5 linked regions of the Homo sapiens genome follow. The protein of the gene in region 2 purifies or fractionates together with the protein of the main gene of each other region. This does not show direct contact. Each region holds a gene or a part of one and is shown on either strand. Other genes may lie near its edges. The genes, in order: TARS1, TOMM34, WDR12, EPS8L1 and ZFAND5.

What was found.
Region 1: the proteins of TOMM34 (region 2) and TARS1 fractionate together in Homo sapiens (co-fractionation; one large-scale study listed by BioGRID). This does not show direct contact.
Region 3: the proteins of TOMM34 (region 2) and WDR12 fractionate together in Homo sapiens (co-fractionation; one large-scale study listed by BioGRID). This does not show direct contact.
Region 4: the proteins of TOMM34 (region 2) and EPS8L1 fractionate together in Homo sapiens (co-fractionation; one large-scale study listed by BioGRID). This does not show direct contact.
Region 5: the proteins of TOMM34 (region 2) and ZFAND5 fractionate together in Homo sapiens (co-fractionation; one large-scale study listed by BioGRID). This does not show direct contact.

The regions. Positions count from the first base shown.
Region 1 is NC_000005.10:33,446,083-33,451,987, reverse strand, and holds part of TARS1 (threonine--tRNA ligase 1, cytoplasmic), read right to left. Parts: intron 5,345-5,905; exon of another isoform or gene 5,224-5,344; intron 3,448-5,223; coding exon 3,257-3,447; intron 1-3,256. UniProt on the Homo sapiens protein: Catalyzes the attachment of threonine to tRNA(Thr) in a two-step reaction: threonine is first activated by ATP to form Thr-AMP and then transferred to the acceptor end of tRNA(Thr).
Region 2 is NC_000020.11:44,945,212-44,951,116, forward strand, and holds part of TOMM34 (mitochondrial import receptor subunit TOM34), read right to left. Parts: intron 3,667-5,905; coding exon 3,519-3,666; intron 1-3,518. UniProt on the Homo sapiens protein: Plays a role in the import of cytosolically synthesized preproteins into mitochondria. Binds the mature portion of precursor proteins. Interacts with cellular components, and possesses weak ATPase activity.
Region 3 is NC_000002.12:202,897,323-202,903,227, forward strand, and holds part of WDR12 (ribosome biogenesis protein WDR12), read right to left. Parts: intron 3,798-5,905; coding exon 3,703-3,797; intron 2,316-3,702; coding exon 2,209-2,315; intron 94-2,208; coding exon 1-93.
Region 4 is NC_000019.10:55,078,094-55,083,998, forward strand, and holds part of EPS8L1 (epidermal growth factor receptor kinase substrate 8-like protein 1), read left to right. Parts: coding exon 1-35; intron 36-905; coding exon 906-964; intron 965-1,596; coding exon 1,597-1,758; intron 1,759-2,035; coding exon 2,036-2,185; intron 2,186-2,287; exon of another isoform or gene 2,288-2,400; coding exon of another isoform or gene 2,401-2,448; intron 2,449-2,678; coding exon 2,679-2,761; intron 2,762-3,137; coding exon 3,138-3,399; intron 3,400-3,679; coding exon 3,680-3,806; intron 3,807-3,998; coding exon 3,999-4,087; intron 4,088-4,181; coding exon 4,182-4,256; intron 4,257-4,360; coding exon 4,361-4,509; intron 4,510-5,284; coding exon 5,285-5,426; coding exon of another isoform or gene 5,427-5,522; coding exon 5,523-5,551; intron 5,552-5,673; coding exon of another isoform or gene 5,674-5,689; exon of another isoform or gene 5,690-5,905. UniProt on the Homo sapiens protein: Stimulates guanine exchange activity of SOS1. May play a role in membrane ruffling and remodeling of the actin cytoskeleton.
Region 5 is NC_000009.12:72,357,387-72,363,291, reverse strand, and holds part of ZFAND5 (AN1-type zinc finger protein 5), read left to right. Parts: intron 1-2,504; 5' UTR 2,505-2,513; coding exon 2,514-2,664; intron 2,665-3,070; coding exon 3,071-3,182; intron 3,183-3,770; coding exon 3,771-3,874; intron 3,875-5,905. UniProt on the Homo sapiens protein: Involved in protein degradation via the ubiquitin-proteasome system. May act by anchoring ubiquitinated proteins to the proteasome. Plays a role in ubiquitin-mediated protein degradation during muscle atrophy.

The sequences.
Region 1 (5,905 bases), on a different chromosome or scaffold from region 2:
TCCTCCTGAGATCAGATGGAGTCAATAAAATAAATACATGCATTTCACAAAACATAACATGAATTTGGCAGAGAGAAATGTATTTCATCATATTGGTGTAAAACAGTTTTCAGGAGATTAAAGAACTGATAAAAAGGATAATCATATTCTCTATATTCTTTGGGAAGAACATGACTTTTATCTTATGATCCAATATGGAGCCCCAAGATTCTAAGAATAGAGTTACTCTGAAAATGTAGATTACACATGGGCCATACTGGATCATTTCAATTTTTCAAAGAAGGGTAAAATAATCTTTAAGATTTGTAACAAAACGGCCAGGCGCAGTGGCTCACGCCTGTAATCCCAGCACTTTGGGAGGCCGAGGCGGGTGGATCACGAGGTCAGGAGATCAAGACCATCCTGGCTAACACAGTGAAACCCCGTCTCTACTAAAAATACAAAAATTAGGCAGGCGTGGTGGCGGGCGCCTGTAATCCCAGCTACTCAGGAGGCCGAGGCAGGAGAATGGCGTCAACCCAGGAAGCGGAGCTTGCAGTGAGCCAAGATGGCGCCAATGCACTCCAGCCTGGGCGACAGAGCGAGACTCCTCCGTCTCAAAAAAAAAAAAAAAAGATTTATAACAAAACTTCAAAGAAAAACCTTTTGACGCAAATGGAACATGTCTTTTTTGTCCTTCCCTTTCATATTCACCACTAATTATGTGAATCTTTAAATAGCCTGTTATCAATGTTATAATTTTTCACAGAACAAAAAGTTATTCTGGACTTTTGTAAAAATTTCATAAAGTATTCTCAGTGCAGATCAGTGACTTAACTCCAGAGCTAAAGCCCATCAATGTTTTATGTAATTCAACCTTTTATTTTTTTCCCTGGAGACGGACTCTCGCTCTGTCACCAAGGCTGGAGTGCAGTGGCTCAATCTTGGCTCACTGCAACCTCCACCTCCCGAGTTCAAGCTATCCTCCCACCTCAGCCTCCAAGTAGTTGGGACTACAGGTGTGCGCCACCATGACTGGCTAATTTTTGTATTTTTAGTAGAGACAGGGTTTCGCCATGTTGGCCAGGCTGGTCTTGAACTCCTGACCTCAGGTGATCTGCCTGCCTTGGCCTCTCAAAGTGCTGGGATTACAGCTGTGAGCCAACACGCCCAGCTATGTAATTCAACTTAGAATTTTATAGTTCTTGAAGAATATTTTTCAACTGAAGACTTGATAAATTACAATGTAATCTAGATCAACATTGTAGAAGGTAGAGGAAAAAGTTCCCAAACTAACAGAAGCCTAAATTTTAATGACACGGCTACAATCTCATTGTGTGACAACAGAGGAATCTATTAATCAACCTGACCTTCAAAATTATCTCTAAAATGAAAGGTTGAACTGATACGTAAAGGTCTATCCAGTTCTCTATGCTCTCACATAGAAACTTGCATGGTATTACAACTTTTTACTTCCTTTGGAGTAAGGTAGAAGAACTTGTAGGTAGAAGCACTTGTCAAATGAATGGAAACACTCCATTCACTTTGTAAAAAGTACTAACTAATGTCTGTGGTACAGTAGATGCTCATGGCTCATAGGCCTAACTGGTTCTGCTTCTACTAGTTGTATAATACGCTTACCAAGAATCAGCCACGTTGGTTCCCCAAACTGTTTTTGTGCTTGTTCTTTTACGTGTTTGGTTCAACAATACAAAATTGATGATAATCAACCACATGACAATTCATATGGTGATTCCAAATGGTTCAATTCAATACATAACACTTATAAATAAACTTCAAAAATATATAATTATAAAATAACACAATAAGGGAATTATGGATTCTATGAAAACCAAGTTGAATGTTTGAGAAGGCTTGATAAATCCAAGTCACACACACAAAAACACTGTCAAGTTAGGTGTAACTCTACAACTACATGAAAATCTGCAAGGATTCTGTGCTCAGACTACTTCTCGTATGTGTTAAGATAATGTAAGAACTCTAATTAGCACTCGCTATCCCCCAAACCTTGCCATACATATATATATTCACTGTTTTATGTATGTATATAAAGTTAGTGAATACATACATATTCACATATTTTAAGTTGAAGTGTTTAAGACCAAGATTGGCAAGCTTTTTCTGTAAAAGGCCACACAAATATTTTACACTTTGCAGGCCAAACATGGTCTCTGTTGTATATTCTTAGTTGTTTTATTTTTTCCAACTATTTAAAAATTTAAGAATCATTTTTGGCTGGGCGCGGTGGGTCACGCCTGTAATCCCAGCACTTTGGGAGGCCGAGGCGGACGGATCACAAGGTCAGGAGATCGAGACCATCCTGGCTAGCACGGTGAAACCCCGTCTCTACTAAAAATACAAAAAATTAGCCGGGCGTGGTGGCGGGCACCTGTAGTCCCAGCTACTCGGGAGGCTGAGGCAGGAGAATGGCGTGAACCTGGGAGGTGGAGCTTGCAGTGAGCCAAGATCGCGCCACTGCACTCTAGCCTCCTGGGCAACAGAGCAAGACTCTGTCTCAAAAAAAAAAAAAAAAAAAAAAAAAGAAAGAAAAAAAGAATCATTTTTATTTTTCGCTTTCAGGACATACACAAACAGATTATGACTAGAGTTTCCCAATACCCAGTTTAAGATATATATATATACACGTGTATATATACGCGTATATATATACACATATATATGTTTTACCAACTCTTATTTTGATAAACTGACCAATTATTGATCCCAATCATATCAGATTAAGAAAGCCTCTCCCCTATTACAAAATATGCATCTAATTCTCAGTTAATTGAAATAACTTCTTCCCACCCCAATAAAAGTTTTAAGACTAGGAATAGTCTTTCATTGAATTTATAAAAATAGTACATTTTTTTCATGTGTTATATGAAGTTTCTTAACCTTTCCATGTGAGATTATGTAGCTTCATTTTTAACTTCAAAACCAAGACATTTAAGTCGAAATAGGTAAACACTGTCTAGTCGGTTTTGTAACATTTATAATCATAGTAAGACTAAAAATATACAATGCCCCAAAAGATAAGACCAAAGTAAACTCTTTCAGAAATTAACTTTGAATTTTGACTACAAAGCTCTGTATCATTTTGATTTTTAAAAAATCTCAAGTAGGCAAAATTAAACAGATTAAAAACACTGAATGGTAACATAAAAATATTATAAGAATAAAACATGGCAAGATAATAAAAGGAAGTTTAGTTAGACCACAAACTATGGAAGGTCATGATGGGTGTAGCTTATACCTAATTCCACAGGCAATTTGATATGGTGTAGTTTTCCAAGATTCCGCATCAACCTGTTTACCATCAGGCAAAGTGACTTTAATTGGCTTGCTATCTTTTTCTGCCTTTTCTGCCAGAATGGAATCATGTTCTGCTTTTAGTATATTATACATCTCAAGACGTGTGTAAATATATTCAGGCCAAGGATTCAACTGCAAGACAACAAACAAATCAGGAAATAAATGATCAGTAAATATTGCTTTCCTATTTAGAAATGGGAAAGAAATAATAAAAACAATACAGAAACCCAGGACTATTGATTCAATGTGGTAAATAAACACTGCCAAAATCACCCGGCATTACCTCAATTTGGTTCTAAATGAAGGTAAAAGAAGGAATTAAATGCCCTATTCTTATGCTGAATCGACAATTACCATTTTGCTACTATTTACAGCAAGTGGTCTTTTCTCTTTTAAGATGTCTTCTTAGGATCTTTTCTAACTAAATTATTTTACAAATAGAGCTATAAACAATACTGGAAATAAAAACAATAAACTGGCTTTTCTATTTTGTTTCATTCATGTCCAGGTGATGGTCTGTGCAGCGGGTCAGCCTATATGTCCACTCACAACCAATCACAAATTTCTTTGACTTAAGGTCTCCCCTTCAAGGAAAGTATTTACTGAATTCAAAGATGCCATGATCAGCTTGGAGTATGTAATTAGCAACTATATAAAACAACACACTACTACTTTCTATAGCAGATAAAATTAACAAAAATATTCTATATAAAACACCCACTTAGGTTTCTAGAGGTTTGGCAAAGAAAGAAAAAGAGACAGCAATCAGAGAGCTGACTTCTTCTACTGTCACTCTATAATCTATGGAACATTTCAAAAAGGCAGTGAATCTGTGGTAACAAAACAGTCAAACTAACATCTACAGCATTCATCATCTTCAAATTACATGAACATTAACACTTCATACAAAAGTGAAGAGGAGATTGCTTAATTTTGCCATGACTTTCTATCTTCAAATGAATTTCAATCTATCAGATATAAAATGACTTACTGCAATACAGATTTTAACATTTATTCAATGTTGATAATGCTACCAACGTCTCCATACATATGTCTCCATATATATCAACATACCACAATTTGAAAGGAGTACAAGGGAATATCTAATCCTTAAGAAACTGACTGGGGCAGGGCATGGTGGTTCATTCCTGTAATCCCAGCACTTAGGGAGGCCAAGGCAGATGGATCACTTGAGGCCAGGAGTTCGATACCACCCTGGCCAACATGGCAAAATCCTATCTCTACTAAAAATACAAAAATTAGCCAGGTGTGGTGGCGCACACCTGTAGTCCCAGCTACTTGTGGGGCTGAGGCATAAGAATTGCTTGAACCTGGGAGGTGGAGGTTGCAGTGAGCCAAGATTGGGCCACTGCACTCCAACCTGGGCAACAGAGTGAGACCTTGTCTCAAACAAAACAAAACAAAACAAAATTGACTGGAGATAATAGAAAATAATATCAAATGAAAAAGATTAATTGTCTGCCCAGTAATTCCTTCCCTCCCTCCTTCTTTCCATTCTTTAACGACAGGGTTTCACTATGTTGCCTAGGCTGGCTGGAGCGCAGTGACTATTCACAGGCACAGTCACAGCGCATTTTGGCCCCAAACTCCTGGGCTCCAGTGATTCTCCCACTCAGTCTCAAGTGATTGGTTCCTACCACCGTATCAGGCCCTAATATCTTTGTAATTCCCACCCACAGCAGTCCCTCCCTTTCTTTAGTCGTTCAGTTGTTGAGAGCTTTTCATCAAATTATCACAACGGTCCATAACCTTCAATGGTGAAGAACCCATGAATTAACTAAAAGCTCAGACAGAGCCTGTCATTCTACAACCATAATCTGAACCCCTCAGACTAATGCACAGTACCCAGTTCCATCCACTCTAAAGCATCATTATAATCCTACCCACCTGCACCACCCTCTGTATCTTAACTGCAGTTTATCATCATAGCCACTTGCAATGTCCCAATTAGAATTTCGTGTCAAAATCTCTTCAACATTCATTCAGCAGATACCCTCTGTGTCAGTCTCTGTGATTGCAGAGATGAATAAAACCTGCAAGTTGCCCTTGGAGGGGAAGACCAAGGTCTTGGACAGTTCACTGTACACTCTTTTTTCCAGACCAATCGTTAAACATAAATAATCACATGTCCCACTTAAAATTCTCTGTTCAGAAGAGTCTTCTAATTATACTCTTTGTCTTATTTCCAGGTCATTTCTCAAGCTGTGATGGAACAGCACGTATGTTTGTATTGAAAGTATAAAAAAGAAATTAGGGAACATATGCATTTTTCCATTGGCTTGCAAATTTTAAAATTCACAATCAACAATTTTCTTCACAATTACAGTGGGGGTATAATGGTCGGGAGACTGATCAACTGATCAGCCGTAAGATAAATGGTTAGGTAGGGTTCTAAGCAACACTACACTTGATCATCTATAAACTTACCCTAAAGTAAATGACGGCACTATAAATTTAGCAATTGCAGCATTTGTAAAAGTGGCTCTTAAAAGCCAGCTTACTGTGCTACTTCTAAAAAGGCTGTTCCTTTGTGCTTCTTCCTTCTGGTAGCTTTCTAAAGAGTCTCCAA
Region 2 (5,905 bases):
TTATCATGAATTTAAAGAAGAAAATTCTACTAGTCCTTTGTGATTGCATGGAATTCATAAATTAACGGAGAGAAAAATCTTCTTGTAACAACTTAAAAGACAGGCACAAATTCTTTGGCAATCCTCCACTGAGAGGCGGAGGTGTATCTGCTCTCTCTCTTTGAATTCGGGCAGGCTCTGTGACTGCTCTGACCAACAGAGGACAGAGGAAGGGACACGATGTGACTTCCAAGGTTAGGTCATAATAGGCCTTGCAGCTTCCACCTTGGTCTCTGGAAACACTCGCTCTTGGAGCCTTGAACTGACAGGGAAGAAGCCAACTACTCTGAGGCCACCACGCTCTCAGGAAGCTCACAGCAGCACACATGAAAAGGCTGCTAAGAAAGTGGAAAGAGGTGCCAGCTTGCTCTAGCAGTTCCATCACCCAGCCATTTGAGTCAGGCAGCCCAGCTGCCAGACATTCGAGGAAGAAGGCTTTAGAGGATTCCAGCCCCAGCTACCATCTTGCTGACCCTGCATGAGAGACCCCAAATGAGAACTGCCCTTCCCTAATTCCTGACTCCACAAATTACAAGCAAAATAAAATGGTTGTTGTAAATCACCAAGTTTTAGAATAGTAGCCCGTTTTAAACTTTGAACACAGAAGAATTCCTTTTTTTTTTTGGAGACAGGGTCTCACTCTGTCACCCAGGCTGGAGTGCAGTGGCATGATAACAGCTCACTGCAACCTCCGCCTCCTGGGTTCAAGCGATTCTCCTACTTCAGCCTCCCGAGTAGCTGGGATTACAGGTGCATGCCACCATGCCCAGCTAACTTTTGTATTTTTTGGTAGAGATGGGGTTTCACCATGTTGGCCAGCCTGGTCTCAAACTCCTAACCTCAAGCAATCTGCCCACCTCAGCCTCCCAAAGTGCTGGGATTACAGGCATGAGCCACCTCTAAACATAGAGGAATTCTAAGGAAATTAAAGTTTCCTCCCAATGGGCTTGGCAATTTAAAGAAATAGCCAAGTGTCTGGGAAGCAGAGGAACCACCGTGTATCGTGACTTCAGAATAGAAATGTGATTAATAGGGTCATGTGAGACTTCTAAAGACTATATTTAAGATGAACAAAATGCATAACTTCAGGCAATAAAATAAACCCCCTTGACTTTTGGTAAATGAAGTAACTGTATCCAGTCAGAAGGGTTTTAATTACAAAGGGGTTGGGAAATAACACAAGTGAGTGAAAGGGAAATAAGCTTTGGAGTCACAAAGATCTGGCTTAAATCTCAGCCACCATGTACTAGTTGTTTAACTTTGTGGTCACTAATTCATCTTTCTGAGCCTGATTAGGTAACACAGGACAATGATCTAAGCTGAAGAACTGTTGTGAGTACAAGTGAGATTCTTATGACAGCTGTTTCAGGGCTGGCAAGTTGTAGGTGCTATGCACTCAGATGTCACCTGCACAAAGGGAGCCAAAGTAAGCCAAAGCCTGGGCATTGTGTCATTCAGATGGGCGTACATGAGGTGGAGCATTAGACTATGTCCAAGACGTTCCAGGACATGATAAAATGTTAGCCACAATGGCTGAAAGTTGTTTTGTCATTAGTCCTCTAGATTAAATTATAAATCCAATGCAATCACAACCAAAAGCTGTCCAACAAGACATTTTTTGGAATTTGCCAAAATGATCCGAAGCTTTAGCTAGAAGAACAAACATGGGAAAATACTAGGAATGCTCTGATTAAGAAGAATGAAGAAAAGACCAGCCCTATAAGATATTATAAAGCAAAAGCAATTAAAACAGTGTGGCACAGACACCTGCATGAAGAACAGTATCTAAACAAGACAAAACACAGCTCCAAATATGGTAATGATCCAGAAAAATGAGTTAATGGAGGTGTCCAGCAGCATAAGGTAAGCAATGTGAAAGAGGGTCCAGAGATAGAGGAGTTAGAAGATGCCACACAAATATGGAACAAATAGGCTGCAGGCTTCTTTTTCAAATTAGCCTGGCAAATTGTGGCCCCTCTGGTCCAATCAGCAATAAAACCACATAAAACCACAGGTGCAAAATTCCAAAATATAAGCTTTAAAACTACAAGTTCTCTTTCCAACTCATTGGGCAGCAAAACCTGATCTGAACTGACATGAAGCTATTTAGTTTCTCTATTCCACCCCATGTGAACATGGAATTTTCAAGTTTCACTGGCAGAAATACTAATAATTAACTTCTGCAAGCTGCCCCAGACACTGCTGGGGTGTTACATAATTCAGACCATATTACCTCACTAAAATGGAAAACACTTCTTTTTTTTTTGTGACAGAGTCTCGCTCTGTCACCCAGGCTGGAGTGCAGTGGCACAATCTTGGCTCACTGTAACCTCTGCCTCCTGGGTTCAAGTGATTCTCCTGCCTCAGCCTCCTGAGTAGCTGAGATCACAGGCATGTGCCACAGCGCCCAGCTGATTTTTTGTATTTTTAGTAGAGATGGGGTTTTGCCGTGTTGGCCAGGCTGGTCTCAAACTCCTGACCTCAAGTGATCCTCCCGGAGCCTCAGCCTCCCAAAGTGTTGGGATTACAGGCATTGAGCCACCGTGGCTGGAAAACACATTTTATCTCAAGAGTTTGGAATAAGGAACAATGTGTCTATATTAGATCCAAGATTTTTGAACTAGAGAGTGATATGTGTATGCTGGTAGGGAAGGATAAACAGATTTCTAACATTTTATAATGTTTTATACTAAGCATTTGGTTTTGATATGGTCTCTTGCTGAATGTTTCAAGCTTCTGAGAGTAAAAGTAACAGGAAGATCTTGTTGAAGTCAGATTCCAATTCTTGTGCCAACATTTACTGGCTGGCTGAGTTTAAAGCAAAACCCTTCCTTCTCTGAGCCTCAATTTTCTAAACACTAAAACAGAAAGACCACCTATACGAGCATTGTTGGAGAACAATCACTCCTACACAGTGAAGGGACCGCACCCTGGCTCCCAGGTTCTCAGTCAGTGGTCACTGACGGCAGCTCCTGGTGCAGGACTTTCTACAGGCCCACAAGTCTAACCTTTCAGGCTAGACTGTACCCATCCTTCCTGCTCTCATGCCAGGCAATGGTTACTTCACATTTTGGCTTCTGGGCCAGTACTCTCAGACAGAAATGGTGCCAGAATTTCTAACAGGAGGGTCTTGGAGAAGGGTAGGGAGCAGCGTAGCGTGGTGGGGTGGACAGGCTAAGAGACTTGTGTTAGGGTTGTGTTTGCAGAGCAGGCACACTGCTTTTAGTTACATTGCATGCTTATGAAAATTCTGGGGACAGGGGCCAACAAAGCCCAGGCTACCATTTGGCATCCCTCAGTTTCTACCCTTTTGAGAGAATGAATGCCACTGGTCATGGCTAGCTCACAACGTGGATGCATGTTTTCAGCCATAACATACTTGACTAAATGCTAGGGATGAAGGGCCCATTGCAGTCCAAGAGAAGACTATGGAACAAATGTCCTGAAATGCCCCAGGCCAGCAGCTGTATAGGAGATACCTGTTGCTGTACGTGGCAGATTCCAGGTTACTACACAAGAGGCTTTCACTGTACTTCTCAATAGCTTTCTTATGGTTTCCCTTCTTTACAAGCTCATTGCCTTCTTCCTTCAGAACTCTGGCTTTCTCCACATCCCCAGCAGAAGGCACTAGATACAAATTCAGAAGAGGAAAAAAACCATGGAGCAGCACCCAACTGAGATCAGTGAGGTCTCTTCAGCATCGTCCCTTCCAAACTGACTACAATCCTCTCTCCCAGAGATTTCCTCCCCTGCTGTAAATCATCCTTCCTGATTAATGACTTCCCCCAATTAATAGCTTCTGGGCAATTCAACAGTTTTTCATCAAGAAGTTGGGGAATCCTGATATAAAAACATTTTTGCATGCACATAAAAATATATAAATGATAAAAAGCAACCCAGGTTCTAGCCTTGGCACTGCCTCTTGGTAGCTGGAAGATCTTGTGTGACCTACCTAACTTTTGGACCTCAATTTCCTCACCAATAAAATAGGGCAATACTAATTCCACAGATGGCTATTTTCAGGGTCAAATCTGAGAGTATGTAAGAAAGTACGGAACACACTATAAACTTAAAGCAGGACAATAAGTAAATAAATACTAATAAACAAATATCTGGTAAAGAAAAGGTATAGCTTCTGGGCTATGAGAAAAGGGGAGAAGAGCCTGCTATTCCTCATTTCTGGTTTGGGCTGAGCCTGTGAGTATCCTCCCTCATCTAACACATGCAGCTCTGCTCCAGCCTTCAAGGAGAGGAAGCAGAGGGAACATGGTGAAATCCAAGCTGCTCAACTTGGTGTTCAGGCCCTTCACTGCTTGGCCCCAATTAATTATTCCAGCCTCAGCTCCATATCATCTGCTTTTCAAAAATTTTTAAAACTATCTTTATAAAATACTAAATATTTATGACCAGGGTAAGATTATAGGTTTACACCCTGAATTCATTGCCTGGTTTAAGAAAAAGAACATAACTAGGACCTTTGAAGTCCTGGGGGACCTTCCTCAATTCAATCCACTGCTGGAGGAAACTATTATCCCCAATTCTGTGCTTCTTCCCCACCTTTTTAAACAGTATAACTATATACAACAGTACCCACAGATCATTTGCTGTTTACTTTGTTTTTGAACTTCATACAGAAGAATAAGTCTGTGTATTCTTTTATGACTTGGTTTTTCTTTTTCCCCTTAATGTTATATTTCTGAGATTCATCTGTGTTGATGCACAGACCTGCAGCTCCTTCATTTTCATTGCTGCAATACCAAAGCTGAATTGTCCATTCTCCCATTTATGGAGATCTGGGTTATCTCCAGTTGTTTTTTGCTATTACAGTCTTCTACGAACATTTGTGGGTACATCTCCCTGTGCACATGCACACAGGTTTCTCTTGAAGTAGGGCTTCAGCTTCACTGGCACCCTGCAACACACCACTCTGCAGTCATCCTTATTCCTACTGTTCCCCCCATGCACTTTCATTCTCCAACTCTCTCCACTGTCTCTGCCAAGGATTCTCCTTCCTTCCCACCTGATGACCTTCTTCAAGGTCCAGCTCAAGGCTCCACCTCCATTGCCACCCCTTCTGAGTCTTTCCCCGACTCCCTCATGCACTTAAGTCAGTTTCTATCCTGAAGTCCTCAAACACTAAGACTCTAAAGCACATGTTCCTCCTCCTTGTGTTTTAAGACACTGTTTACATGTCTCAGTCCCTCAACTGAGGGAGAGTTCCCTGAGGGCCAAGACTGTCCTCTGTGTCACACTGCTTAGCATACACATGGCTTGGAACACATGGCTCAGTGACCCTGAAAGAATGAAATCAATGGTAGGTGCACTGATTTAAAGAATGAAATCAATGGTAGGTGCACTGATTGAAAGAATGAAATCAATGGCACTGATGCCATCAGGTTCATTAGCACCGCACATTTTCATCCTAGAGAAGAGTGGGGAACACTTACCAGGCTCCCACAAACCAGAGTGAATGCTACCCATGACCAGAGAGGCATTCTCCTGTAGAAGGTGAGTAACTCTTGTCCTCCCCTAACACCTATAGGTCACTTACACATGGCAGGGCTCCATCTCTGATCCCTTCTGCACCTCTAGCCTGAATCCCTAGCTTGCTGGGCTGGGACCATTCCCCTGGAGCATTAAAAGAGCTTCCTAGTGCCTGACAAATGGCCTCTTCATTTCATACAGTTGAGGTGAGGAATCTCCTGTTTTTGGCTGCTTGGATCTCCTTTCTCTTCTTCATGCTTCTCCAGGGATTCACACAGTGTACATGCTCCTGGGAAGCATCACCCTCTAGTTCTGGAGGTGGGGCAGGTGCCTCAGGGTGACCTAATCACAAAATCTCATCCGCCGGTTATGGTGTGTACTT
Region 3 (5,905 bases), on a different chromosome or scaffold from region 2:
TTTACAACATCCGTATGTCCCACAATTGTCATTATTGACTTTCCTTCCAAGGACCAGATCCGAGAAGTCTTATCATAAGAACCAGTCAAGATCCTATGAGAAAAAAAAATCTTATGAAACACAAAAAGCAGTTTTTCCAAACCCTGAAATGTTTCTTTGGCAATGACAAAGTAACTTTGAGGATTATACTTTTAAACTCTTTTTTGATATGAAGATTGAGATTTCAAGCCATACTAGATCAGATCACTTGACGTTTCTCAACCTCCTAAAAATAATACCTGGCATGGCTGGGCGTGGTGGCTCACGCCTGTAATCCCAGCACTTTGGGAGGCTGAGGCAGGCGGATCACGAGGTCAGGAGATCGAGACCATTCTGGCTAACACAGTGAAACCCTGTCTCTACTAAAAATACAAAAAATTAGCCAGGCATGGTGGCGGGTGCCTGTAGTCTCAGCTACTCAGGAGGCTGGGGCAGGAGAATGGCGTGAACCCAGGAGGCAGAGCTTGCAGTGAGCCGAGATTGCGCCACTGCACACCAGCCTGGGTGACAGAGCGAGACTCCGTTTCAAAAAAAAAAAAAAAAAAAAATATATATATATATATAAAAAATATATATCATATATATACATAGTATAAAATTACTTTCAGGCTAGGTGTATAAGCTGTATATGAAACATAAATGAATTTCATGTTTAGACTTGGATCACATCCCTAAAATATTTCACTATGTATATGTTAATATTCCAAAACCACCCCCACCCAAAAAAAATCCTACATCCAAAATACTTCTGGTACCAAACATTTCCAGATAAGGAATACCCAACCTGTAGTACTCTTTTTTCTTTTTGAGATGGAGTCTTGCTCTGTTGCCCAGGCTGGAAGGCAGTGGCGCGATCTCAGCTCACTGCAACCTCTGCCTCCTGGGTTCAAGTGATTCTCCTGCCTCAGCCTCCCGAGTAACTGGGACTATGGGCACAGACCGCCATACCTGGCTAATTTTTTATATTTTTGGTAGAGACAGGTTTCAATATTTTGGCCAGGCTGGTCTCAAACTTCTGATCTCAAGTGATCCACCTGCCTTAGGCTCCCAAAGTGCTGTGATTACAGGCGTGAGCCACGCGCCTGGCTGTCCACCTGAAGTATTTTGTACTTAACCAGTGAAAACCATTTAAACTAAAAGTAAAACTAGGAGAAATATAACTTTATGTAATAACTCCAAGAAGGCATTCTTTGAAAGAAGCTCCTACCATAATCTACTCTTGAGTTGTTTTCCTACAAGTAAGGCCAGTGAGGATTTGCCCTAAGATATCTGTACCTTCTTTGCTGAGTCCAGTCTGCTCCTTCTAGCCCTAAAATAGTATGCTATGCATCTTTAAGGTATTAGGCCAGGAGATCTATGGCTATAAAAGTTACTTTTTTCCTTTATGAAACAAACTATATCCTTGGTCTTAAAAGCAACATAATCGAACCAAATAAATTAAATGCTCTAAGATACATGACTTATTCAGAAGACAAATATTGCTGGGTGTAGAGAAATCCCACCTATTCAGGAGGCTGAGGCAGGAGGACTGCTTGAGCCCAGGAGTTTGCGACCAGCCTGGGCAAGAGAGAGAGACCCCGTTTAAAAAAAAAAAAAAAAAGGCAACAATAATTGTTACTACCACATATTGAACAGAACAGAAAAAGAGTACCTATTAATAAATACCTGTGGTTTTTTTTTTTTTTTTTTTTTTTTTTTTGAGACAGAGTCTCATTCTGTTGCCCAGGCTTGAGTGCAGTGGGGCCATCTCAGCTCACTGCAAGCTCCACCTCCCAGGTTCACGCCATTCTCCTGCCTCAGCCTCCCAAGTAGCGGGGACTACAGGCGCCCACCACCACGCCCGGCTAATTTTTTGTACTTTTTTAGTAGAGACAGGGTTTCACCATGTTAGCCAGGATGGTCTCGATCTCCCAACCTCGTAATCCACCCTCCTCGGCCTCCCAAAGTGCTGGGATTACAGGCATGAGCCACTGCACCCAGCCACCTGTTTCTTCTTGAAGACACTGAATGAAAAGATCTTTCTGTTTGCCATGGCCACTGATACAGAGATCACAAAATTAATTTACAAATAACATTAAATCACAGAAAAATATGTATATATGGATTTAAAAAGACTGAAGGAGGTAAAAACAAAACAAAAAAAAGAGAAGGGCATTAATCTGGCAATACCATTCCTCTGCCCCTTTAATTGAACTGATCCAGTCATCATGGAACATGCATTGCTCTGGCTGGGGTGCAGTATACTTCTCCACGTATTCTATTTCCACAACTTCTTCCTAATCACAAGAGAAACCAGCAACAAGTCAGGTGGTCTAGTTTTAAAATATTACATTATGAAGATAACCCCCAATTTAATATATCTCCTTTATATCCTTCATATTAGTCCCCTTTATAACTCAGCAAATTTGGAGCCATTCAAAAAGTCAAGAACTTTATTTGACCTAACTGTAAGCTAAGAGTGATATTAGGAAATAATAGCTTGGCATGGTGACTCACACCTGTAGTCCCAGCTATTAACATTAGGAAAGCTGGGGCAGGAGGACTGCTTCAGCCTAGGAGTTCAAGTCCAGCCCAGGCAACAAAGCAAGACCCTGTCTCCTAACAAAAATTTTAAAAAGAAGAAATATTAATCGCCTTGTACAACTTATGCTGCAAATGGGGGGGAAAGGAATATAAGAAAGCCTTAGGCCAGGTGCAGTGGCTCACACCCATAACCCCAGCACTTTGGGAGGCCGAGACGGGTGGATCACCTAAGATCAGGAGTTCAAGATGTGCCTGGCCAACATGGTGAAACTCTGTCTCTACTGAAGATACAAAAATTAGCCAGGCGTGGTGGCAGATGCCTGCAATCCCACTACTTTGGAGGCTGAGGCGCAAGAATCATTTGTACCCAGGAGGTAGAGGTTTCAGTGAGCCAAGACTGTGCCATTGCACTCCAGCCTGGGCAACAGATGGAGACTCTGTCTCAGAAAAAAAAAAAAAAAAGAAGATAAAAGAAAACATTAAAATTAAGAAAAAAAGCACATTGTTTAATGGGTACAGGTCTTCTGTTTAGGATAAGGAAACAATTCTGGAAAATGGTGATGGTTGCATAATACTGCAAAGGCACTTAATGCCACTGAATTGTATACTTAAAAATGGTTAAAATTCTAAATTTTATGTTATGTATATTTTACCACAATTTTTAAAATCACAAAACAAGCAACAATTATAAGTTATATTTTTAATCATAAAAGCAATATAAGGAAACTTTGAAAATAAAAGGGAAAAATAACAGTAACTTAACCCATAGTTTTTATATTTGCCCAGTTATTTTGTGCACCAGTATTTGTACACACATATTTGCTATTCCCTTTCTTGCCAGTTCTTCCACAAATATAAAGAATGTGTTCATTTATTTCTTGAATAAAACACTCTCACAAAAAAAGAGGGCTTCAAAATTGAATATACAGGAATATACATATATATATACACACACACTATATATATTCAATACACACATAAAATATACACACAATACATAACACACACAACATATATAGCCAATATATTAAAAAGAATCTTTGCTACTAAAGATAGATTCAGTGTGATTCTAAAAGGAGTTTACCTACAATAGCCGATAATGCCTCAAGTGAAATACAGAAGATAAGAATTTGAACTTACTGATGAGATGTTCTCCATTTCCATGTGTTTGTCCAAGGGCATTCGCAGAAACTGGCCCTTAATAAGGAAATCAAACTCCACATGTTTGTGGAACTCTGAGGAAAATACATAACAAAATTATCACTCTTAGTGTCTAAAGTAATATTGGCAGAGGTATATGAGAACTCCCAAAACAAACAGGTACCTATTATCCCAGTGTGGCCTGAGTTTCTCTGTGATTTTTAAGATCAGAAATACTTTGTTCTGTTAGTATAATGTCTTTTTACTGTTGTTGGTGTAATTATTTTGGTTTAGAAAACTTTTATTATTTCAAACATACACAAAAGTAGAAATAACAATGAATCTCATCACTATTGCCCATTTTGACATCCACCAACTAATGGGACATCATCTATATTCCACCCTCCATTCCCCGGCTGGTTTATTTTAAAGCAAATCTCAGAAATTATATCATTTCATCTGTAAATACTTTAGTATGTATCTCTAAAATATAAGGACTTCAAAAATTTGTCACAATATTTTAAAATTTAACAATCACTCCTTCTAACATCAAATAGTCAATGTTCTTTTACAGTGAGCTTTCAAAAATCAGCATCCATAATCCATACATTATATTTGATTAATGTTTCTTTTAATCTTTAACAGTTCCTCCTCCTTTTTCTCCTTGCCATGTATTTGTTGATGAAAGTGGGTCATCTGTTTTGTAACATTCTGGGTTTTGTTGACTCCATCTCCAAGGTGTCCTTTAACATGCTTCTTTATCACACAAATATCCTATAAACTAGTCAGAGGTAAATGGTAAATGCCTGGTTAGATTTCAGGGTTTTTTGGGTTTTTTTTGACAAGAATATTCACAGGCAGTATTGTCTATTTCCTGTTACATCCCATCAGGATGTAAATAGGTTCTGGTTGTGTCTCTTTTTAAGATATTAAGACCCATCATAGGGCTTGGATTATATCAGTCTGATTCTATCCACCATAATGCTCCTTGTCAGTCTTTTACCTAATTATCGGGATTAACAGCTATTGAGAACCAATACTGTACTTACATTCATTTCTTTCAGAGTTGCAATATGGTAACAGTCTATACAGAAGGAATAATGTTCGGTCTATATGTTTAGAAAAATGTTACCCAACTATTTGGGTAACATACTGGAATTGCAAAGCTTCTCTTACAGGAATAATTCTTTCCTCAACAAAATACTTGCAAACCAAATTCAACAACACATTAAGAAGATCATCATGACCAAGTAAGATTTATCCCAGGGATGCAAGAATAGTTCAACATACACAAATCAATGTAATACACTGTGATGGTTAACACTGAGTGTCAACTTGATTGGATTGAAGGATGCAAAGTATTGTTCCTGGGTGTGTCTGTGAAGGTGATGCCAAACGAGATGAACATTTGAGACAGTGGAATGGAAGAGGCAGACCTACCCTCTATCTGGGTAGGTACCATCTAATCAGCTGCCAGCATGGCTAGGATAAAAGGAGGCAGAGGAATGTGGAAGGACTAGACTGGATCAGTCTTCAGGCCTTTATCTTACTCCTGTGCTTCCTGCCCTCAAACATTGAACTCCAAGTTCTACAGCTTTTGGATTCTTGGACCAGTGGTTTGCCAGGGATTCTCAGGTGTTTGGCCATAGACTGAAGGCTGTACTGCCGGCTTCCCTACTTTTGAGGTTTTGGGACTCGGACTGGCCTCCTTGCTCCTCATCTTGCAGACAGCCTATCGTAGGACTTCATCTTGTGATCGTGTGAGTCAATACTCCTTAATAAACTCCCTCTCGGCTGTGCGCAGTGGCTCACACCTGTAATCCCAGTACTTTGGGAGGCCAAGAGTTCAAGACCAGCCTGACCAGCATGGTGAAACCCCGTCTCTACTAAAACTACAAAAATTAGCCAGCCGGGTGTGGTGGCACGCGCCTGTAATCCCAGCTACTCGGGAGGCTGAAGCAGGAGAATTGCTTGAACCCGGGAGGTGGAGGTTGCAGTGAGCCGAGATCGTGCCACTGCACTCCAGCCTGGGCGACAGAGCAAGACTCCGTCTCAAAAAAAACCAAAAAAACAAAAAATCTCTCTTTCATATATACATCTATTCTATTAGTCCTGTCCCTCTAAAGAACCCTAATATATACATCATATCAACAGAATGAAGGACAAAAAGCATATGATCATTTCAATTGATGCTGAAAAAGCA
Region 4 (5,905 bases), on a different chromosome or scaffold from region 2:
AGCTGCCCCAAAGCCAAGCGCCAAGTCTATCTATGGTGAGCGGGGGGCAAGGGAGCCCCAGGCCCATAGAACTGGGTCTAAAGAAACAGGACCTGGCATCCAGGGTCTTGGAGGAGGAGGGGCTGGGGGTCTGGACTCCTGAGTCAGAGGGAAGAGGTGCTGGGGGTCTGGACTCCTGGGTCAGAGGGAAGAGGGGCTGGGGGGCTGGACTCCTAGGTTTGAGGGAGGAGGGGCTGGGGGCCTGGACTCCTGAGTCAGAGGGAAGAGGTGCTGGGGGCCTGGACTCCTGGGTCAGAGGGAAGAGGGGCTGGGGGGCTGGACTCCTGGGTCAGAGGGAAGAGGGGCTGGGGGGCTGGACTCCTGGGTCAGAGGGAAGAGGGGCTGGGGGGCTGGACTCCTGGGTCAGAGGGAAGAGGGGCTGGGGGGCTGGACTCCTGGGTCAGAGGGAAGAGGGGCTGGGGGGCTGGACTCCTGGGTCAGAGGGAAGAGGGGCTGGGGGTCTGGACTCCTGAGTCAGAGGGAAGAGGGGCTGGGGGGCTGGACTCCTGGGTCAGAGGGAAGAGGGGCTGGGGGCCTGGACTCCTGGGTCAGAGGGAAGAGGGGCTGGGGGCCTGGACTCCTGGGTCAGAGGGAAGAGGGGCTGGGGGTCTGGACTCCTGGGTCAGAGGGAGGAGGGGCTGGGGGGCTGGACTCCTGGGTCAGAGGGAAGAGGGGCTGGGGGCCTGGACTCCTGGGTTTGAGGGAGGAGGGGCTGGGGGCCTGGACTCCTGGGTCAGAGGGAAGAGGGGCTGGGGGGCTGGACTCCTAGGTTTGAGGGAGGAGGGGCTGGGGGCCTGGACTCCTGGGTCTGATGGAGGAGGGGCTGGGCCTGGACTCCCAGGCTCATTCTCTTTCTCCCCTGGCAGAGCAGAGGAAGCGTTACTCCACAGTTGTTATGGCTGATGTATCCCAGTACCCAGTCAATGTGAGTCTGGGGTCTGTGTTCCCCCAGGACATCTTCTGGGGCAAAGGTGGCCTCAGGAGATAGGGCTTTTGAAAGCAGCTAGGCCCCCAAGCAGGAAGCATGTGGAAAGTCAGTTTGCCCATCCATAAAATGGACCTCCGTTGCCTCACCTCAGTCATGGATATGAAGCCAGGGGCCTCGGGTCCACTTAATCTGCCAGCCTTTCCTCCAGGCCAGCTGTTGTGCTGGACAGTGGGACCACGGAGGCAAATCAAGACACAGCCCTGCATGAGGAAGGGGTAGACAAGGTCCAGAGGAATCCACAGAGGCGCCTGGTGCTCTAATGGAGGTGGCAGGGGGCATGGCAGGAGACCCGAGGAGGCATTTAGAAGGAGAGAGCTATAATCCAGACTCCTTCCCTGCCCGCAAGGAGCCTCCAGTCTGTGAGAAGCCAGACTCAGGTGCTAGTCACTCTGATGAAAGGGAAACAAAGGGCACTGGGAGGAGGAGCTGATTTGTGGAACAGGTGATCAAGGAAGGCTTCCTGGAGGAGGTGTGGTTAGTCTCAGGCTGAAAGTCTGATTATTCTGGGGGATTCTGAGCCCACCTGGCATCATCTTGGGCCTCACTGCTTTCTCCATGGTCCGTACCAGCACCTGGTGACGTTCTGCCTGGGTGAGGACGATGGCGTGCATACCGTGGAGGATGCCTCCAGGAAGTTGGCCGTCATGGATAGCCAGGGCCGAGTCTGGGCACAGGAGATGCTGCTGCGAGTGTCTCCCGACCATGTCACGCTGCTCGACCCGGCCTCCAAGGTGCCGGGGGGCACGTGGGTGGGAGGAGTGTCTGGGGCAGGGACTTCAGGGGGTCTGGGTGTGAATCTTGGCTCCTGCACGTCCTTCCTCTGGGAACTCTGGCGAGGGACCCCAGCCCCCTTCTTGAGCCTTAATAGCCTCATCTATTAAACAGGGCTGTTATCCCTAACCCCCTAACCGCCTGAGGTTGCCCTGACCTGCTGGCCCACACTCCCGTCGCCATTTAGTAGTACCATCATTTCGGGGCCTCAGTTTACCCCGCCATCCCACCCGGCAGGAGGAGCTGGAGTCGTACCCACTGGGCGCCATCGTGCGCTGTGACGCGGTGATGCCACCCGGCAGGAGCCGCTCGTTGCTGCTGCTCGTGTGCCAGGAACCCGAGCGCGCGCAGCCCGACGTGCACTTCTTCCAGGGCCTGCGCCTCGGGGTGAGCAGATGGGCTGGCTCTGGGGGTGGAGCTGGAACTGGGCGGAGCCTGGAGCCGGGGCGGAAATGGGTGGGGCCTCTAGGTGGGGCGGGGCCTGGGGCTAAGGCGGGATCAGAGCAAGGAAGGGCAGGGGACCTGGGAAGGAAGTTCTGGAAGGCAGTGGGGTTTGAGATTGGACCCAGGGTCAAGATAGAACATGAAGGTGGGATGAGGACATGAACAGAACATGGCCAAGAAGGATCTGGGGGAGCAGCCAGGACGAGGTGGGGGCGAGGAACCACCCGGACTGGGTCTCCATGGGCGGGGTCGTGGCTTAGGGCAGGGACAGGTGTAGGGCGAGGGGTGAGTTCGGGGCGTGGACGTGCGTGGGTTCACAGGTGTGAACGGTAGCCGCACGTGGGCTGGGACTGAGCTGAAAAATCGGCCAGGGGCGAGGCCCGGGTAGGAAGTGGGTGCGGCGTGGGGAGGCGTGGCCTGACGGTGTGATTGGCAGGCGGAGCTGATCCGAGAGGACATCCAGGGGGCTCTGCACAATTACCGCTCGGGCCGCGGGGAGCGCAGGGCGGCGGCGCTCAGGTGAGAGGGAAGAAGTTGGCAGGGTCTCTGGGAAGCCGGTTTCCCCTCCTTGTGCCTCAGTCTACAACACCAGCCTGGAACAGAACAAGAGTTTTGCATGGAGTCAAGCACACCCTAGTCGAGTCTTGTCTGTACCTCCCAGACGAGCTGACCCCTTCTCCAGAACTCTGCTTCTTTTCTCTGTTCCCTGTCCAGGCCCTCAGTTTCACTCTAGAGAGGTGCTATCCCTCCGTATATCGGATTTCTCCCTACCTCGTTGAACTTGTTCACTCCCTTTGAGCCTTTTGAGCCTGTGTGTCTCGTTCTGCGCCCTGGATTTCCCCCTCCCTGGACCCCTCAGTGGACCCAGTCTTGGTGTCCCCGTCGCCCTCCGCAGGGCCACGCAGGAGGAGTTGCAGCGCGACCGCTCGCCCGCCGCTGAGACCCCGCCCCTGCAGCGCCGCCCGTCAGTCCGCGCAGTGATCAGCACCGTAGAGCGGGGCGCGGGCCGCGGACGACCCCAGGCGAAGCCCATTCCCGAGGCAGAGGAGGCGCAGAGGCCTGAGCCGGTGGGGACCTCGAGCAACGCTGACTCGGCCTCCCCGGACCTGGGTCCCCGGGGTCCTGACCTGGCGGTTCTGCAGGCGGAGCGGGAAGTGGTGAGCCGCTAAGGAAGGGGTCTGGGGGCAGGGCCAGGCGACTGGAGGCGGGGCTAGGGCGTGGAAGGGCGGGGCCGGCTGCGGGACGGGCGTTCTCTGGTCAGACTTCTGCGTTATGGAAGAGGGGCTGGGTCGGGGGCGGGGCTTGGTTGTGGGGCGTGGCCAGGTGTTTGGGGCGTGGCCTGATCTGGGGAAGTGTATAGGTGCTCAGGTTCAGGGCTTCGACGGGGATGGTTTTGGAACTCGGGAGCCCTGAGCGTCCCCCTCCTCTGTCCCCTAGGACATCCTGAACCACGTGTTCGACGACGTAGAGAGCTTTGTATCGAGGCTGCAGAAGTCGGCGGAGGCGGCCAGGGTGCTGGAGCACCGGGAACGCGGCCGCAGGAGCCGGCGCCGGGCGGCTGGGGGTAAGGGGCACCCTGGCGTGGGATCTGAACCCCCTCCCGATCTCTTCCAAATGTCCCCGCTCTCCCCAGGCTCTCCCCTCCCGCCACTTGCCAGGGCTGACCTCACCGCCATCTTAACCGGGTGTCCACCTCTCTCTGCCTGCCTGGTGCTGGCCCCGCGTCCCCATCGCCGCGCCCGTCTGCTCCCCTCAGAGGGCTTGCTGACGCTGCGGGCCAAGCCGCCCTCGGAGGCCGAGTACACCGACGTGCTGCAGAAGATCAAGTACGCCTTCAGCCTGCTGGTGAGGACGCGCCCGCCCCTGGGCCGGGGCGCGGGCACGACGAACCTGTCCCGTCCCCGCACCCACGCCAACCACCTCCCTCCCCACGCCCCAGGCCCGGCTGCGCGGCAACATCGCCGACCCCTCCTCTCCGGAGCTGTTGCACTTCCTTTTCGGGCCTCTGCAGATGGTGAGACCCGCCCCAGGCCCTCGGGCCCCCCTGCAGCGGGAGGAATCGGGTTCGACTTGTAGAAGGTGTGGCGGCACAGCCTGCCCCTCCTGCTCCCCTGACAGATTGTGAACACGTCGGGGGGGCCGGAGTTCGCGAGCAGTGTGCGGCGGCCGCATCTGACATCGGATGCCGTGGCGCTGCTGCGGGACAACGTCACTCCACGTGAAAACGAGCTCTGGACCTCGCTGGGGGACTCGTGGACCCGCCCCGGGTGAGGGGCGGGGCTGGGAGGCAGGGGGCATGGTGATTGGAGGAGCATAAGGCGCTGGGAGGTGGGTGGCATGATGATTGGAAAATAGGACTAGGAGAGTAGGGAGGGGTTAGAGGCGTGGCTTAGTTGTGTTGGGGCGGGGCTTAGGACAGATGCCAAGATTCAATTGGAGGAAAGGCCAGGAATTAACGTGAAGGAAAGATTTAAGACCACCAGACCAATCGGATTGAAAGAAAAGGGGGGCTTAAAGGAATAGAGGGGCTAGGGGCTACGGGGCAGGGGCGGGGCTACGCGAAGGGGCGGGGCTTCTGGAAGGTTTGGTCTATAACTTTGGTGATGGGACAGAGTCTGTGCACTGCGGGCTGGCAGTTCCGCAGGGAAAGGGTCAGAACCTGAAACCGACCTTACGGAAAACCTGATTTGGAATCAGGTGAGATTTAGAGGCTGGATAAGGCAATTTTTTTCCAGAGAGAGAGATGGATGGGGTCTCAATATTTTGCCCAGGCTGGTCTGGAACTCCTGGCCTCAAGCGATCCTCCCATCTTGGCCTCCCAAAATGCTGGGATTACAGGCGTGAGCCACCGTGCCCGGTCTAGAAATATAAATTGCTGTTGAGTTGGGCTTAGAGCTACCGGCAGGACTTGGTGAAAAGTGGCGGGGCTAGAATCGTTGGAATACAGCGAGCTTTAGGGGAAAACTTAGTGAAGTTAATGCAGGAACGAAGTTGGGGGCTGTATCAGGATCCCTGAGCTCTTGGCCCTGTCCCTGGCCGCAGGCTGGAGCTGTCCCCGGAGGAGGGACCCCCATACAGACCCGAGTTCTTCAGCGGCTGGGAGCCGCCGGTCACTGACCCGCAGAGCCGCGCCTGGGAGGACCCAGTTGAGAAACAGCTACAGCACGAGCGGAGGCGCCGGCAGGTGACCCAAGCGACACAGCAGGGCCGAGGCTGGGAAGTCCGGGGGCGCGGCCGGTCCGCCTGGCCCCGCCTGACCCGACTGTCTTACTTCCTACAGCAAAGCGCCCCCCAGGTCGCTGTCAATGGGTGAGTGTCCGCCCCAGGGCAGGGCAAGGGGGTCAAGGAGGGGTGCGTCCCGGGGGCTCCCGATGCTGACTCCGCCCCCTTTTTTTCTGTGTTTTTCCTTCTGTCTTCCTGGCTCTTCTCAGGTGGGTGAGATGGTGATGGGGCGGGCCGGGGCTGGGAGAGAGGGAGGAGCAGGGTGGGAGGGGGCGGGACCCAGACTTCTGGGGCTAAGGGAGTTGGGAATGGAGACCCGGATTCCTGGGCCTAAGGGAGGAAGGGGGCTGGGAGTGGGTAAAGTCTGAGAGGTTGGATCCCTGGATCCCCAAAAGGCTGGAAGAAGCCAGTTTGTTTTCCCAGGGCCTGGGAAGCACCATG
Region 5 (5,905 bases), on a different chromosome or scaffold from region 2:
ATACCTGATAGAGCTGACACGTGCATGCTCAAGTTGCTAATTACTTTAAAGGCAATAAATAGTAATGGTATTTTTTTCTAAAATACAAGGGGAATGCAATACCTAATGGGAACACACATCCCCCACTTCATCCCCTAAATCCTCACTAAATGAGGATTCTTTTTTACACTGTCTCCACTGTGCTTAGTTTTTTATCAACAACCTTGACCATTTTAGCTTTGACTATGCTTTCATCTTCTAGATTGAGATTGTTCTGTAGTTTTTCCTACATTAGGAAAAAACTAGCAGCCCTTTTTTTGTTTTCTTATGTTAGATATATGAACGCTGCATCCTTAGTTCTTGGGGTTGTGTAGGAGTTGGCAGGCTTTGAGATATAAATAGAAGCTGATTTCAGAGGCCCCTGTTGACTAGGCTTTATGTGAGAGCCTCCATCCAGCTCAGCTTGTCACATTGCAGCCTTGTGACAGGCTGAAGCGCCCTCCCATGTGATCTGAGCTTCTGAGAAATATTAAAGCAAGCTGTGCACATGTGATGGCATTTAAAAGCTGGCTTTCTAGGGGAAAAAAATCTAAAAGATGGGAACCCATGTAGAAGACTCATGTCCTGGTACCTCTTGTGTGTCTCGCAGTTGAAAGTTATTTATAATGAAATGAAGGTAGACATGTTCTCTGAAGCAAAGTTGGAATACTTTGTTATCTCTGAGTGTGTGAAATCTTTAGATGGAGTATCCTCCATTTTATCTAAAACAAATATTTTAAGAATCAGATTAACTAAAATTACTTAGGTAGGTTGATCGCTTGGCCTTAAACTTTAAAGCCAATGTCACATGAGACTGGGCCTCAGTGTAGAAAATGTAAGCTAGCATACTTAAACTGGTTTTAAGGAGTGACCCAACTTTCATGCATAGGGCAAACATTCACACATATTTTGTGCGTGGTGGGCATGCAAATACATACATATTTATCATTTGAAAGCATTTTTTGCTCCTATTATGCTCATTTAAAAACCCAGCTGAAAGTGTTTATTAATAAACTTCCTAAGTGATGTTGAAATGTTTACACTACCCTGCTCCAAAATGAGTCAGCTAAATTCCAGTTAATATTTAAAGAGACAGTGTCAACTAAATTAATACTGTTGTTAAAAGTAAGTTGTGGATCTTGGTCACTCCACACAAGCTAGATTGTCTTAATATTTGTATGGTGCACTTTTACTTACAAAAGGGAAGATAAAATGTTTTGGGGAATAATTACCAGGGGTCTGGCCAGGTCAAAATTGGTTAGTCCCCTTCTCCCATCTTCTAATTTTGGTAGTTAATACTTGTTAAAACATCGTTTTTTAATAACTCACTAAAAAGTGTATTCTAGTATGTAGTTGGAAAAAATGACTGACCACAAGTTACAGCACACGAATTTTCCTTTAAGCAAATGCTCTCAAATATGCTTTTTGTACATATGCTTATACATGTTTAAGATGACATGAAAACCCTCCACAACTTTATTTTAAAATAATTTTTCTTTAATATGTATTTTCTCATCCAGAGGAAAACTTATTAATAATTTAGCACAGCGTTTTAACAAGACTTTTAGAAAAGCAAATCTTCCTTGGAAACAAATGCTTGCTATGTAAAGCTTTTTCTGGTAACCCAGCATTGAATATTAACCATTACTAAAGGTTATGTGTATATATTGACTTTAATACATTGAATTTGAGCTTGGAACGGTTTTATTATTTTCTGGTATGAGGAAGACAAGCACTTGTTAAAATTAATAGTGCCTTTGGCTGAGAAATCTGGTTCATAATTTGTGTATTGCAGGTTCCTAGGCACTGGCTTTGACATACTCTGAAACTTCAAATGGAGAACGTAAAAGGAGTTTCGTAAACCAGCTGACCCTAAATTCTTAGAGATTTACTTGTTGGTGCCAGGGTAGCAGGAAGGGCTACCAGTTCTCTTTTCAGCCTTATATGAAGATGTTTCAGCATTAAAAAGTACAGATGCTCTGCCTCAGCAGATTTGTCAAATTACTGATGAAGCCCAGATATGTACAGGTGTTTTAAGAAAACTTTATTCATCCAGTTTAAAGAACTACCTATAAATATCAAGACTCAGTGATAATTGTGATTAGCCAATTAAGTAAAAACATTTGAAATGGTCTGCCTGTAGTGCAGCAGAGTGAAAAGTTAAAGATACCAGTTTCCCAAATTGATTAAAACATAACCCTGAGAGCTAACAGACCTTTTCATAAATTGAAACCAAGAATAGTGATAGGTAAAAATACCCTAATAATTGATAAAATTTCTTTTTGGGTTTTTTTTTGGTCCTAAAACAGTTTGCTTTTATAAAGGCAACAAAATATTGATAATTATCTCTGCCCACCCTTTTTAATGATTAACGGAATTTGGGCTTTTGTTAAAACTTGCGTAGCAATTACAACGGTATACCGATGATTATATTAGACTATATTTTGGTGATAACACTAATTTCTGAAATTTCGTTTCATCTATAGCAGAAAAATATGGCTCAGGAGACTAACCAGACCCCGGGGCCCATGCTGTGTAGCACAGGATGTGGCTTTTATGGAAATCCTAGGACAAATGGAATGTGTTCAGTTTGCTACAAAGAACATCTTCAGAGGCAGCAAAATAGTGGCAGAATGAGCCCAATGGGTAAGTTATTTCCAAGGAAAAACACATTTGAAAGAACTGGTGGACAGAAATACAGAACCAAGAATTGGGGCTGAGAATGCTGAAAGCACATGGAGAGAACACCTGATAAGAGCTTGAAATTCAAGCAACAGCCCAAGTGCTTGACATGACTGATCAGGAATGAATGACTATCTACAAGCATCTTATAGCTTTTCAGTTTTCTTTTTTGGGGTTATTTTGTTTCACACTTGTGTTCATTGGATTGACTTTTTAATATTTTTTGTTTGGATACTCAAGTATAGGATTACAGCACAGTGAATGCTTATATCACTAACCTAATTAAATGCAAGTATTTATTACTACGTCTTGATACTAAGTGAGTTTTTGTAGTGTTCATTGGTTCCTTACAAATCCTTTTTTTAAATAGGAACAGCTAGTGGTTCCAACAGTCCTACCTCAGATTCTGCATCTGTACAGAGAGCAGACACTAGCTTAAACAACTGTGAAGGTGCTGCTGGCAGCACATCTGAAAAATCAAGGTAAGATTGAACGTTTCAGAGTTTTTATGATATTACAAAGAAGAAATCAAGATGTCTGTACTGGTCCAATAATAAGTTAATAGATACCCTTGGCTTTGCAATCGAGGATTTCAGTGTCTTTTAATACATGACTCTTAAGTCATTGAGTAAAGATGTGTGTTACTTACACCTGACTCCCTAACCCCCTCAAGGATACTGTGTTGGAAATGCTGTGCTTTTTTATTTCTTTGTAATTGAGGTTTAGGGATTGTCGAGTGAGACTGTAGAATATTATTGGGCCAGACAAGGTGTTTTGGCAGAGCTGCCCTTTTGCCCTTAAACAAGTTACAGGCACAGCTAAAAATCCCTAGCTGGTTGTAAAATATGGTAACCTATACAAAATGCAGCCTCGAGTTCATGAGCCATTTATCAAACTTTTTTCTCAACCATTTGTGCTGGGCATCCAATTTTTTTTTAAACTTTAGATTATCTAGCTCCATTTGCTCATTTTGGAAATATTCTATAATTTAAAGTTGAACTGACAACTTATTCATTGTCTCAAGAAGTACCCTTAACACCTTTAAAAATTGTTTGCTTGAACTCAAATAGAAATGTGCCTGTGGCTGCCTTGCCTGTAACTCAGCAAATGACAGAAATGAGCATTTCAAGAGAGGACAAAATAACTACCCCGAAAACAGAGGTGTCAGAGCCAGGTATGTTTTTCATTTAATACTTGTTCAGTTCTGAATTTGATAGTGCAAGAAATGGCTGGTGGGGGGATTCTTTCCTTCCCATTGAAGGACCAAAGAGGAGGGAGAGCCATAAAATATAGGCCAAGCAAAGAACTACTATCTTTAAAAGTATCTTGAGTATGAGTATCTTGAAGTGTAAAATAGTCATATTTATTCTCAGTTTCTTCTCTGCTCATCCCCTGCACTACCCTTGTGCATAATGGGCAAAGTCTGTAATCTGGAGATTGGATGTGTTAAAAACTTGATGAAGTTAAATTTCAAGGGTATAAGGAATAATTTTATAACCAAAAGCAGTAACTTTAGTTTTGATATTGTCAATGTTGTGGAAAACTTTTAAGTAGAACAACATATTTGAACACTAGAACTTATTTGAAGTACAATATTCCTATCATATTTTGTGGGAGTTTGAAACTCAGTGTGGAAAGGCATTTTGGTTTTCATGAGATATGGTGACTTTGGAAACTTTGCTTATATAGCACAACCAGAAGTGCCCTGATGGTGGAAGAAGACTGACTTGAATTACCTGTACTAGGCCCTAGAACAAAAAGATTTCTGTGCTTTATATAGTGCACGTAGCTTATTTTATCAATTTGTTCTTTTTTGGCAGAGTGCTGATTAAATGCAATATAAAACTTCTGTTGTGAAAAAATACTGTCAGTGGTTATACAGTCTGCTTTGGAGGCTGGCTTTTGCTAACAGCAGTCAAGTTTGTTTATTGTATTAATCTTACAAAGTTAAGGCCAAATTCTCAAGTTTGGCAGGTGAATCTATATTTGGCATTTTGAAATGAGCTCCATCCTTAAACTGACCACATTAGTTTGCCCGTGATGCCTTTGTTTGGGTTTTTGTTTTTGGTTTTGGTTTTTAAATACAAAATTACTCTGACCTTGGAAGAATAGTCTTGGGTTAGAGCTAGTCTGCATTTATTATTACTTAGTAGGCATTCTGTGATTCACTGCTATTTGCCTTTTCTGTGTCATTTTCTTATTCCCCCTTCTTCCCTTGTCTCAGGAGCCGTAGTTCATTTTTCAGATGTGGCCAAAGAAATGGCTGACACCCTCCCTCTACCCCATACAACTATTCCCCTAGATTATTCTTTATCCTCATGACATCAGGATAAACATTAATGTTGTCACAGTAGCAGTAGGTAGAATATTGTTCGTTTAGTCTAATATTAGGCTATTTCTCCCAGTAGATTCATTGCTAATGCAATTGAATTATAAATTTGGGCAGAGTTTTAGAGAAAATTGCCATTAAATCAATCAGCTTGTTGTAGGAGCTTGTCTATATGCTAATAGCATTGGTGCTGGCATATTTGGGCAGTAATTTCAGCATTGCATACATAAATTTGCTATTGTTACATTTGGATTAATATTAAAACCTGAGTTTATAGTGTTTCAGGTGTAGTTGAATTATATGTAAGTAGATATAAATTTTGTTATTTTTGTGTTAAAGAACTAGTGGCAGTGTGGGCTTTAGTACAGTAATGTATTTTTTGTTCATTGTGAGAAATTTTATTGATGCCATGTGTACACTGAAACTTAAAGCCTTTTTAGGTGGAGAAACGGTGGGACTGTTTGTAGATGCTATCTCTGTCGATAGTGGATGCCCATTTTAGATAAGATTCTTGTTCTGCCTGTGGAATCCTTAATAGTTTAAAATCAATACTTCTCGAGTAGTTTCTAAAGACTGTTTGCCGATCTGTTTTTAAAACCAAGGTTTAAAAAAATCTTTCAAGTCTTCCTATGATGTTTAGTGCACCTGTGAAAATGGTAAAATGATTGTTTTGGAATTTTTGGATCTGACGTTGATTTAGGGATGAATGGTTTGAGTTTTATTTGTCAAAATTTGCTGTTTTTATATCTACAGGATTTTTTTTCCTATAAGCATAAAATCAAAGTTGGCTACTGTTATTTACTGTGATGTAATGAATTTGAACTGCCCTGATTGAAAAGTTTGCATTTAGGAAATTATAACGTGGAAAAACTGAGC